Homo sapiens: one gene and its partner. The protein of the gene in region 1 interacts with the protein of each later gene in a biochemical or structural test. Each region holds a gene or a part of one and is shown on either strand. Other genes may lie near its edges.

Region 1 (3,703 bases):
TTATCCTGCCTCAGCCTCCCGAGCAGCTGGGTCTACAGGCGCATGCCACCATGCCCGGCTTTAGTAGACAGGGTTTCACCATGTTAGCCAGGATGGTCTTGATCTCCTGACATCATGTTCTGCCCGCCTTGGCCTCCCAAAGTACTGGGATTACAGGCATGAGCCACCACGCCCAGCCCAGCCAATTCTTTCAATATAAAAATACAATAGTCATGGCCAGGTGTGGTGGCTCATGCCTGTAATCCCAGCAGTTTGGGAGGGCCAAGGCAGGTGGATCACCTGAGGTCAGGTGTTCAAGACCAGCCTGGCCAACATGGTGAAACCCCACCTCTACTAAAAACACCAAAATTAGCCGGATGTGGTGGCTAATTTCCTACTGAGGCTGAGGCAGGAGAATCACTTGAACCTGGGAGGTGGAGGCTGCAGTGAGCCAAGATTGTGCCATCACACTCCAGCTTGGGGAACAGAGCCAAACATTGTCTCAAAAAAAAAAAAATTAGTCATGTTAGAAATTCCTTTATTCCTTATCAAAACAAACTAACAGTAAATGTATATTATATGCTTTAATTTTATACATATAAGTTATCTTGTTTGGATACATCTTTCATGAGGACTCTGCCACATCCATACTTTGTCCTTGTGGTGAGAGAGGATAAAATGTTATATAATTTGTTATTCAAAGAACATGGCAACCGTAACAGACAAAAGGAAGCATGGCATCTAGGGGAGGAGAGTGGAGAGTTTTCCATACACAAACACATTTAAACTTCCCTGTACAAAAATACCTGCTGTTGCTTTAGAAATCGTTTTCCGTTATGAATAGTCAGGTCTTGCAGTACAAATCCAGGTGCAGTGCCAGCAAGTATTTCAAATAAATTTCAACGACTTGATATTCAAGTCCAAACTAAATATTTAATGTTTTCTTTATTGCAAATATGATGTCTTTGACCTGAGGTATAGAGTTGTCCTCTAGAATCTTTGCATAAGGCATAGGGACATCAGCACCAGTGACACGAACAGCAGGAGCATCCAGGAAATTGAACGCAGGACCTAGGAGAAGGAAGGCTCAACTGAGAGAGTGCAAATGCCAGCTGGGCACTACCACCTTGGCACAGAGGTGTGGCTGACCAGGAAGAGAAAATGTAAGGAATGCTAATTATGGGGAACCGCTTTCTGGATTTGCTTTTAAAAATATCTGCCTGAAGAGAAATGCCAAACTTACAAGTTTAAAGTTGAAGTCGTTTGGCCACTCCTAGCTTTCAATCTCTTTATCCTGTACGTATTCAGGTACATGATGTTTACTATAGCTTGACTGTATTCTAGAACCAGTTTCTTTGAAATACCTTCCATGATCCTGGCACAGATTTCAGCTCCTACTCCAAACTGTGGCCAGCCTCCTTCCACAGTTACAAGATGATTTGTCTTCATGACACTGGCTTCTATGGTTTCCATGTCCATTGGTCTAATGGTACGCATATTTATCACCTAAACAGGTAATATAATCAAGTTTACAGAGCTATTGCAGCACAAATAGAGCCTTATCCCCATAATACCATTTCCTTTTTTGTTTCCTGTTAATCTTTGTATCTAGGAAAATCTAATCTGCCTATGAATACCTATTCATGAATGTACAAACTGTAAAAGGAAAAATTTTAATTAAAACAAAGATCTGTATGTCTACCACAAGCAGCTCTGTGCAGTTATAGGATTCATTTATCTTCCTTCACTTTTTTATTTCTTTTGGGATGGAGTTTTGCTCTTGTTGTCCAGGCTGGAGTGCAGTGGCGTGATCTCGGCTCACTGCCACCCCCGCCTTCCCAGTTCAAGCCATTTTCCTGCCTCAGCCTCTGGAGTAGCTGGGATTACAGGCATAGACCACCACGCCTAGCTAATTTTTGTATTTTTAGTAGAGATGGGGTTTCAACATGTTGGCCAGACTGGTCTTGAACTCCTGACCTCAGGTGATCCACCACGCCCAGCCAATCCTCCTTCACTTTAAATTCCCTCATCAAAATGAGTTAACAGTTAACAGCTGAGTGCCCATCATGTACCAAGCACTACACTAAGTGTAATTCTCACAACAGCCCTATGACGGGACAGTATTTATATTATCCCTGTTTTATAGCTGATGAAACAGATTTAGAGTATATAACTTGCCCAAGTATAACTAGCACATGGTGAGTTTCTAAAAGATCCAGAACCTCAGAAGGGTGAGGTGGGAGCATCACTTGGGCCCAGGAGTTCACGGTTACAGTGAGCCATGATCCAGCCACTGCACTTCAGCCTGGGCAACAGAACAAAAGCCTGTTTTTTTCTCTCTCGGGGGGTATCACTGAGAACCAGAAGAGGTTCAGAGAGCTCCCACTGTCTCTCAAAAAAAAAGATCCAGAACCTAAGTGACCTGAGTGGTAAAAAGCTAAGTATGTGAACTGCAGGCAGGTTCCCAGCTTTAAGCAGAGACAGAAATGAGTGACAAAGCAAGGTTTTACATCTAATTAACCTGTTACAGAACTCTTCTGGGTCTTAAATCTAAAAGGAGCCCTTCTAATTCTTTAAGAACAAGTAAATGTCCACTCACCTCACATTCAACTCCTTCTTTAGATAGCACTGCTGCAGCTTCTAAGCAGTGGCCCACAGGTCTTGAATGGGAAACCACAGTTATATGTGTTCCTGAAAACAGAGTGGTCACAGATCAGAGATCAGGTTGAAACTGAAGATGCTACACCACTGTGCCGCCAGCTGTGGCTCTTGTTCATTCATAAAGTCTTCAATTCAACTTCATTCCAGTGAGCTGAGGAATGTGGCAGCCTTCCTAGAAATGAAACACAAACCTACCAGACTGAGATCTAGAAAAGCACAACTGAATGAGAAATTGGGGCATCTTGAGCTCATCCTATAATTTTTCAGTCAAAGTAAATGACAGTAACTTCTAGATTAAATTTTACCAAAATTGAGGGGCTGGATTAAAAATACTGTTTATATATCTTAGTTTTCTTACCTTGCCTTTCTATTTTGGCTTTTCCAATAGGAATCAGAAAATCTTTTGACTGAGCTTCCGGAGGAAATTCAAAAGGAACCCCATACATCAATTCATTCTCTAGCACCACCACTGAAAAACATAAATATTTAAACAAAAGTAATTAATCACATCCAGAATGACTAAAACTGCATAGAAAGCAATATCATTCATCTTGTGAGAAGTTTCATTGTGCTGATTAGCCTTATCTCTACCATGACCAGCAGCCTTGAGAGCAGTTTAGGTACTTAAATTTGTAGTGGTCAATATAATTTTATCTATCAAACCAGTATTGTGGGTGTGCAGTAAATGTCCCCTTTACCTAGCTGGCCCCCTTATATTCGGAAATAGGAAAAGCAAGCACATTCTTTACTATCTTTACTATATAAAGTATTAACATTCTATACGATATATCTAAGCCTAACTAAAAGACTTTAATGGTTTCCTCTGTGCAAATATATCATTTTAGTTTTTCAATCTTCAAAAAAAACCAAAGGGTCCCTGTGCTGACCTGGATTGTTATCCCGAATGGCTGATTTAATAAGTCCTTTAGCATCCTCTGAATTCCAGGGACTGACCACCTTTAAGCCTGGGCAGTGCCCATACCAGGCAGCAAAGCACTGTGAGTGCTGGGCAGCTACACCTGCTGAGGCACCATTGGGCCCTCTGAAGACTATAGGCACAGGC
Region 2 (7,052 bases), on another chromosome or scaffold:
AGTGCAAAACTTACACTCTGAAAAACTATAAAAAAACTGTTGAAAGAGACTGAAGAACACCTAACTAATACAGGGGCATCTACATGTTCATGGATGAAAAGACTATATTCTTCGGATGGCAACACTTGCCAAACTGATCAGCAGATACATCCAATCAATCCTTATCAAAATGTCAACTGGCTTCAATGCAGAAATTTACAAGCTAATCCTAAAATTCACTTAGAATTGCAAGGGACTCAGACAAAACAATCTTGATTCTGGCTAACACGGTGAAACCCCGTCTCTACTAAAAATACAAAAAATTAGCCGGGCATGGTGGTGGGCGTCTGTAGTCCCAGCTACTTGGGAGGCTGAGGCAGGAGAATGGCATGAACCCGGGAGGCAGAGCTGGCAGTGAGCCAAGATCACGCCACTGCACTCTAGCCTGGGTGACAGAGCAAGACTCTGTCTTTAAAAAAAAAAAAAAAAAAAAAAAAAAATCTTGAGAAAAAAGAACAAAGATGACTCACGTTTCCTGATTTTACAACTTATTACAAAGCTAAAGTAATCAAGACTGTGGTACTGACATTAAGGGTATACAGAGATTAATGGAATGGAATTAAGAACCTGGAAATAGGCCAGGCATGGGGGCTCATGGCTGTAATTCCAGCACTTTGGGAGGCCAAGGTGGGTGGATCATTTGAGGTCAAGAGTTCGAGACCAGCCTGGCCAACATGGTGAAATCCTGTCCCTACTAAAAATACAAAAATTAGCCATGCCTGGTGGCTCATACCTGTAATCCCAGCTACTCGGGAGGCTGAGGGACGAGAATTGCTTGAACCTGGAAGGTGGAGGTTGCAGTAAGCCAAGATCACGCCACTGCACCCCAGTCTGGGCAACAGAGTGAGACTCAGTCTCAAAAATTGGCACATGACAAGGATGCTCTCTCTCACCACTCCTATTCAGCATAGTATTGGAAGTTCTGGCCAGGGCAATCAGGCAAGAGAAAGAAATAAAGAGTATTCAAATAGAAAAAGAGGAAGTCAAATTGTCTGTTTGTAGATGACATGATTGTATAGTTAGAAAACCCCATCATCTCAGTCCAAAATCTCCTTAAGCTGATAAGCAACTTCAGTGAAGTCTCAGGATACAAAATCAATGTGCAAAAATCACAAGCATTCCTACACGCCAATAACAGACAAACAGAGAGCCAAATTGTGAGTGAATTCCTATTCACAATTGCTATAAAAAGAATAGAATACCTAGGAATACAACTTACAAGGGATGTGAAGGACCTCTTCAAGGAGAACTACAAACCACTGCTCAAGGAAATAAGAGAGGACACAAAAACAAATGGAAAAGCATTCCATGCTCATGCATAGGAAGAATCAATATCGTGAAAATGGACATACTGCCCAAAGTAATTTATAAATTCAATGCTATCTTCATCAAGCAACCATTGACTTTCTTCACAGAATTAGAAAAAAACTACTTTAAATTTCATATGGAACCAAAAAAGGGCCCGTATAGCCAAGACAATCCTAAGCAAAAAGAACAAAGCTGGAGGCATCATGCTACCTGACTTCAAACTATACTATAAGGCTACAGTAACCAAAACAGCATGGTACTGGTACCAAAACAGATATATAGACCAATGGAACAGAACAGAAGCCTCAGACATAATGCCACACATTTACAACCATCTGATTTTTGACAAACCTGACAACAACAAGCAATGGGGAAAGGATTCCCTATTTAATCAATGATGTTGGGAAAACTGGCTAGCCATATGTAGAAAACTGAAACTGGACTCCTTCCTTACACCTTATACAAAAAATAACTGAAGATGGATTAAAGACTTAAACGTAAGACCTAAAACCATAAAAACCCTAGAAGAAAACCTAGGCAATACCATTCAGGACACAGGCATGGGCAAAGACTTCATGACTAAAACAACAAAAGCAATGGCAACAAAAGCCAAAATAGACAAATGGGGTCGAATTAAACTAAAGAGCTTCTGCACAGCAAAAGAAACTATCATCAGAGTGAACAGGCAACCTACAGAATGGGAGAAAATTTTTGAAATCTATCCATCTAACAAAGGGCTAATATCCAGAATCTATAAGGAACTTAAACAAATTTACAAGAAAAAAACAAATGACCCCATCAAAAAGTGGGCAAAGGATATGAACAGACACTTCTCAAAAGAAGACATTTATGTGGCCAACAAACATGAAAAAAAGCTCATCATCACTGGTCATTAAAGAAATGCAAATCAAAACCACAGTGAGTTACCATCTCACGCCAGTTACAATGGCGATCACTAAAAAGTCAGGAAACAACAGATGCTGGAATGTGGAGAAATAGGAACGCTTTTACACTGTTGGTAGGAGTGTAAATTAGTTCAACCCATTGTGGAAGACAGTGTGGCGGTTCCTCAAGGATCTAGAACCAGAAATACCATTTGACCCAGAAATCCCATTACTGGGTATAGACCCAAAGGATTATAAACCATTCTACTATAAAGACACATGCACACATATGTTTACTGCAGCACTGTTCCCAATAGCAAAGACTTGGAACCAAGCCAAATGCCCATCAATGATAGACTGGATAAAGAAAATGTGGCACATACACACCATGGAATACTATGCAGCCATAAAAAAAAGGATGAGTTTGTGTCCTTTGCAGGGACATGGATGAAGCTGGAAACCATCATTCTCAGCAAACTAACACAGGAACAGAAAACCAAACACCGCATGTTCTCACTTGTAAGTGGGAGTTGAACAATGAGAACACATGGACACAGGGAGGGAAACATCACACACCAGGACCTGTAGGGGGGTGGGGGGCTAAGGGGAGGGATAGCATTAGGAGAAATACCTAATGTAGATGATGGGTTGGTGGGTGCAGCAAACCACCATGGCACGTGTATACCTATGTAACAAACCTGCACGTTCTGCACATGTATCCCAGAACTTAAAGTATAATAAAACAAAACAAAACAAAAAATAACAAGATCTACAAAAAAAAAAAAATCTGGAAATAAAATTCTCACATATATGATTAATTTTGACAAGGATACCAAGACAATTCGATGGGGAAAGATGGTGCTGGGATGAAAGAATAAATGTCCACATGCAAAACAATGGTTGGATTCCTATCTCACACCACCTATAAAAAATTAACTCAAAATAGAGCAAAGACCTGAATATAAGAACTAAAAGTATAAAACTGTTACAAGGAAACAAAAGTATAAATCTTCATGACCTTAGACTAGGTAATAGTTTCTTAGATATAATACCAAAAGCACAGAAGAAAAAAATTGATAAAAGTGGACATAACCAATATTTAAAATCTTGTGCTTCAAAGGACAAGATCAAGAAAGTAACCACCAACTGATATATTGTAACAAAATATATGGACAAAAATATAAATGTTTGGTGGGGAAAGACAAAATTTTTATAACTTAGAAAGTTGGAATTTTCAGAACTTTTACCTTATTAAGTTCTTTCCGTACCAACAAAACTTCTCCCATATTTACATCGATAGAAAGGTAATAATGAGGTATGGTTTGCTTTGATTGCATTAATCGCTGTGCAATAACCTGAAACCAAAGAGATTTAAAAAATCAATTATCTTGAGTTAAGACCTTAACTAATTTAGGGCTCTGTTTGTCTCTTCACCTTACTCTCTGCTAATACTTACCTCAAGCATTATTATAATTGAAAGATGGAGGACTCCGCCATAATATAACACCTCCTAGATTTTTTTTTTTTTTTGAGATGGAGTCTCGCTATGTTGCCCAGGCTGGAGTGCGGTGGTGCGATCTCGGCTCACCACAACCTCCATTTCCCAAGTTCAAGCAATTCTCCTGCCTCAGCGTCCCGAGTACTTGGGACTACAGGCATGTGCCACCATGCCCGGCTAATTTTTGTATCTTTAGTAGAGACGGGGTGTTTCACTATGTTGGCCAGGCTGGTCTCGAAGTCTGGACCTTGTGATCTGCCCGCTTTGGCCTCCCAAAGTGCTGGGATTACAGGCATGAGCTACTGCGCCTGGCCCTTCTAATAGGAACAAAGTGATTCAAGTATTCAGTTGGCCAAAACTTCCCTTAAAGTAATCATCCAATATTCCCAACTTAAAAAGCCTCTGTTAATGTGTTAAAAACTATGGAAGCAACTAAACAACCTAAAGATGCCCCTAACAGCTGATTCCAGATGATGGTAATTCTCTTACCCGACGAATGTTGCTGATTGGGATATCTGTGAAGACACCTGTAGGAACTGGTGCCATTCCAGGACCTGTGGGAGGCACAACAGCTGCCGGAGCCTATGGGAGGAAAGAAAAAGCTCTTAGTAACTGTGATTCAATCTTAGCGTAAGTACCTGGGAAAGACTGCCAGTGACTATGCAGTTTTTTTTTTTTGTCTTTTGAGACAGAGTCTTGCTCTGTCACCCAGGCTAGAATGCAGTGGCTCAATCATGGTTCACTGCAGCCTCAACCTCCTGGGCTCAAGCAATCCTCCCATCTCAGCCCCTAGAGTAGCTGGGACTACAGGTGCACGCCAACATGCCCAGCTAATTTTTTTGGATTTCTAGTAGAGACGGAAATTAGCCACGTTGCCCTGGCTGGTCTCAAATGCCTGGGCTCAAGTGATCCACCCACCTTGGCTTCCCAAAGTGCTGGGGTTACAAGCATGAGCCACCATGTCCAGTCTAAAAACTAAGCTTTATAGAATACCTATTTCTGTCCCCAGTGAGCAAAAGAGACTTCTGCTTGTTTTAAGAGTTTTAATTTTTTTACTTAGAATTCTGAAGTCATGTTTTAAGTGTCATTTTTCTTTGTATCAGAGTATGTTCAATGACCAGTTTGTGTCAAAATAATTTTGTTTTTGCAAAATTATGTTCAAGAAAAGCAATGGAAGCATTCTTAAGTTGCAAGGAATAATAAATAAGTATAAACAAGCTAATCCATTATCCTAAACAATGTTAAGAAAAGGGGGTTGGGAGGCTCACTTGAGCCTCACAATGACTCACTTGAGGCCAGGAGTTCGTGACCAGGCTGGCCAACATGGCGAAACCCTGTCTCTACTAAACATACGAAAATTAGCCAGGTGTGATGGCATGCACCTGTAGTCCCAGCCACCTGGGAGGCTGGGGCATGAGAATCGCCTGAATCCAGGAGGCAGAGGTTGCAATGAGCCAAGATCGCGCCACTGCACTCCAGCCTGGGCGACAGAGTGAGACTGTCTCAAAAACAAACAAACAAAAAAAACCAAACACCAAAAACAACTCATTCAACTGTACTTTAAAATATTTTGAAAAAGAAAAAAAGAACAAATCTTTTATTTCAAAGCAAAAACCGATTAACTAGCTCAAAACATAATGTGGAATACATGTCAATGTAGTATATCATCTTTGATCTTGTATATAAATGATAGCACACAAATATCTAAATACACTTGGCCCTCCATATCCATAAGTTCTGCATCACTGGATTCAACCAAAGGCAAATCAAAAATATTCCAGAAAAAAACAGATGGTTGCATCTGAACTGCACAAGTACAGACTTTTTGTCCTTATTATTATTTCCTAAGCAATAAAATATAACAACTATTTACATAGTATTTACCTTGTATTTAATATTATAAGTAATCTAGAGATGATTTAAAGTATTTGAGAGGATGTGGGTAAGTTATATACAAATACTACACTATTTTATATAAGAGACTTAAGCATTTGCGAATTTTGGTATACAAGGGGGCTCCTGGAACCAACCTCTCATGGGTACCGAGGGATGACTGTATTATTAAACCACTGAAATTAGAAGAAAACAATCTTGGTTGAGCTATTTCGTTCATAAATAATGTATGAAATGGTCTAACAGGCTGTAGAGACAAACTGCAAAAAAAGTAAGAGCTACACATAACTCACAGGAGCAACTTTACTAGGCACAAAAGAGTCGATATCCTTCTTGGTGATTCTACCATCTGGTCCTGTCCCTGTAAGAGACATAAATATCACATACATGATGACATACCATTGGTTCCCCAAGGAGATCAACGCTGTGATCCTAAACTGCAAGCTCCTAAGGGTTTACTACCAAAAACATTCTGAAAGGTTCACAGCCTTAACCCTACCCCTTAAGGTGCTACCTACAAATACCAGCTTTTGTCAACTATTAATTTTAATCCACACAGAGTACCAGTGTGTGATCTGGAGTGGGTCTTTTCTTTTTAACTACTGCAAATATTCCTTTATGTATTTCTCTTTTAGAGTTTTATCCAAGTTGTACTTAATTTTTTTCATCTTCCTTACTTTTAAATTGGGAAATGTGGCATAAGGATAATGCCGAGCACAGTTTATATCTCCAAAAGGGAAACTAGCTGCCTCCTCCTGGTTAGCTCCAAAAAACCATTCCTAAGCCGTGAAATAGATTTCATTTGGGTTCTGGATTTATGTGACCATAAAGAATTCCTTTTATACAGAATTTACAGGTATAACAATAATTGTTTTGACAAATCAAGTCGATTTTTTCACCCCAAAATAGCACGAATAACTCTTTACTGCAATTATCTTATCTTTAGAATCATTCATTCCTTATGTGGTCTCTATGACTCATAGCTTTTTCACAGTAGCCAAGGCTCTAAACTGGCCCGTGTTAAAGGAAATGAAGGAAAAAGGTGCAATGTCACACATGAGGAAGGATCTTCAAAGTTCTCTCAGTAGGTTTAATTTTACTTATATTCAATTTCCTCCCTCCTCCCACCTACAGCCTCTTAGGTTTAATTTTGGACCCAAGTAGATAATCTTGACCTTTAATTCTACGGAGATTCAGAATTTAGTTATTATTATAGAATACCTTTTACACTGGCCCACTTCTAGGAAAAATTTGGTCAAACTGATTCATCTTCCCCCAAGGCAGACTTTAAAAAGGACTCTTGTTGTGTGTAGTTCTTCCCAATTCCTTTCCTTCATTACGAAAACTGAGTTGGCTAGGATTGTATTTATCCTCACTAGGAGCTCTAGAACAGAGGTGGTAGTACCCCTATTAGATTTCTCTCCTTTGTA

What was found.
Region 2: the proteins of PDHB (region 1) and DLAT form a complex in vitro, tested with the Homo sapiens proteins (2 studies listed by BioGRID and IntAct, with this or other methods).

Annotation. Positions count from the first base shown.
Region 1 is NC_000003.12:58,427,130-58,430,832, forward strand, and holds the end of PDHB (pyruvate dehydrogenase E1 component subunit beta, mitochondrial isoform 1 precursor), read right to left. Parts: coding exon 3,528-3,703; intron 3,110-3,527; coding exon 2,999-3,109; intron 2,671-2,998; coding exon 2,579-2,670; intron 1,486-2,578; coding exon 1,344-1,485; intron 1,051-1,343; coding exon 905-1,050; 3' UTR 501-904; downstream 1-500. UniProt on the Homo sapiens protein: The pyruvate dehydrogenase complex catalyzes the overall conversion of pyruvate to acetyl-CoA and CO(2), and thereby links the glycolytic pathway to the tricarboxylic cycle.
Region 2 is NC_000011.10:112,042,397-112,049,448, reverse strand, and holds part of DLAT (dihydrolipoyllysine-residue acetyltransferase component of pyruvate dehydrogenase complex, mitochondrial isoform 2 precursor), read right to left. Parts: intron 5,984-7,052; coding exon 5,916-5,983; intron 4,312-5,915; coding exon 4,219-4,311; intron 3,587-4,218; coding exon 3,479-3,586; intron 1-3,478.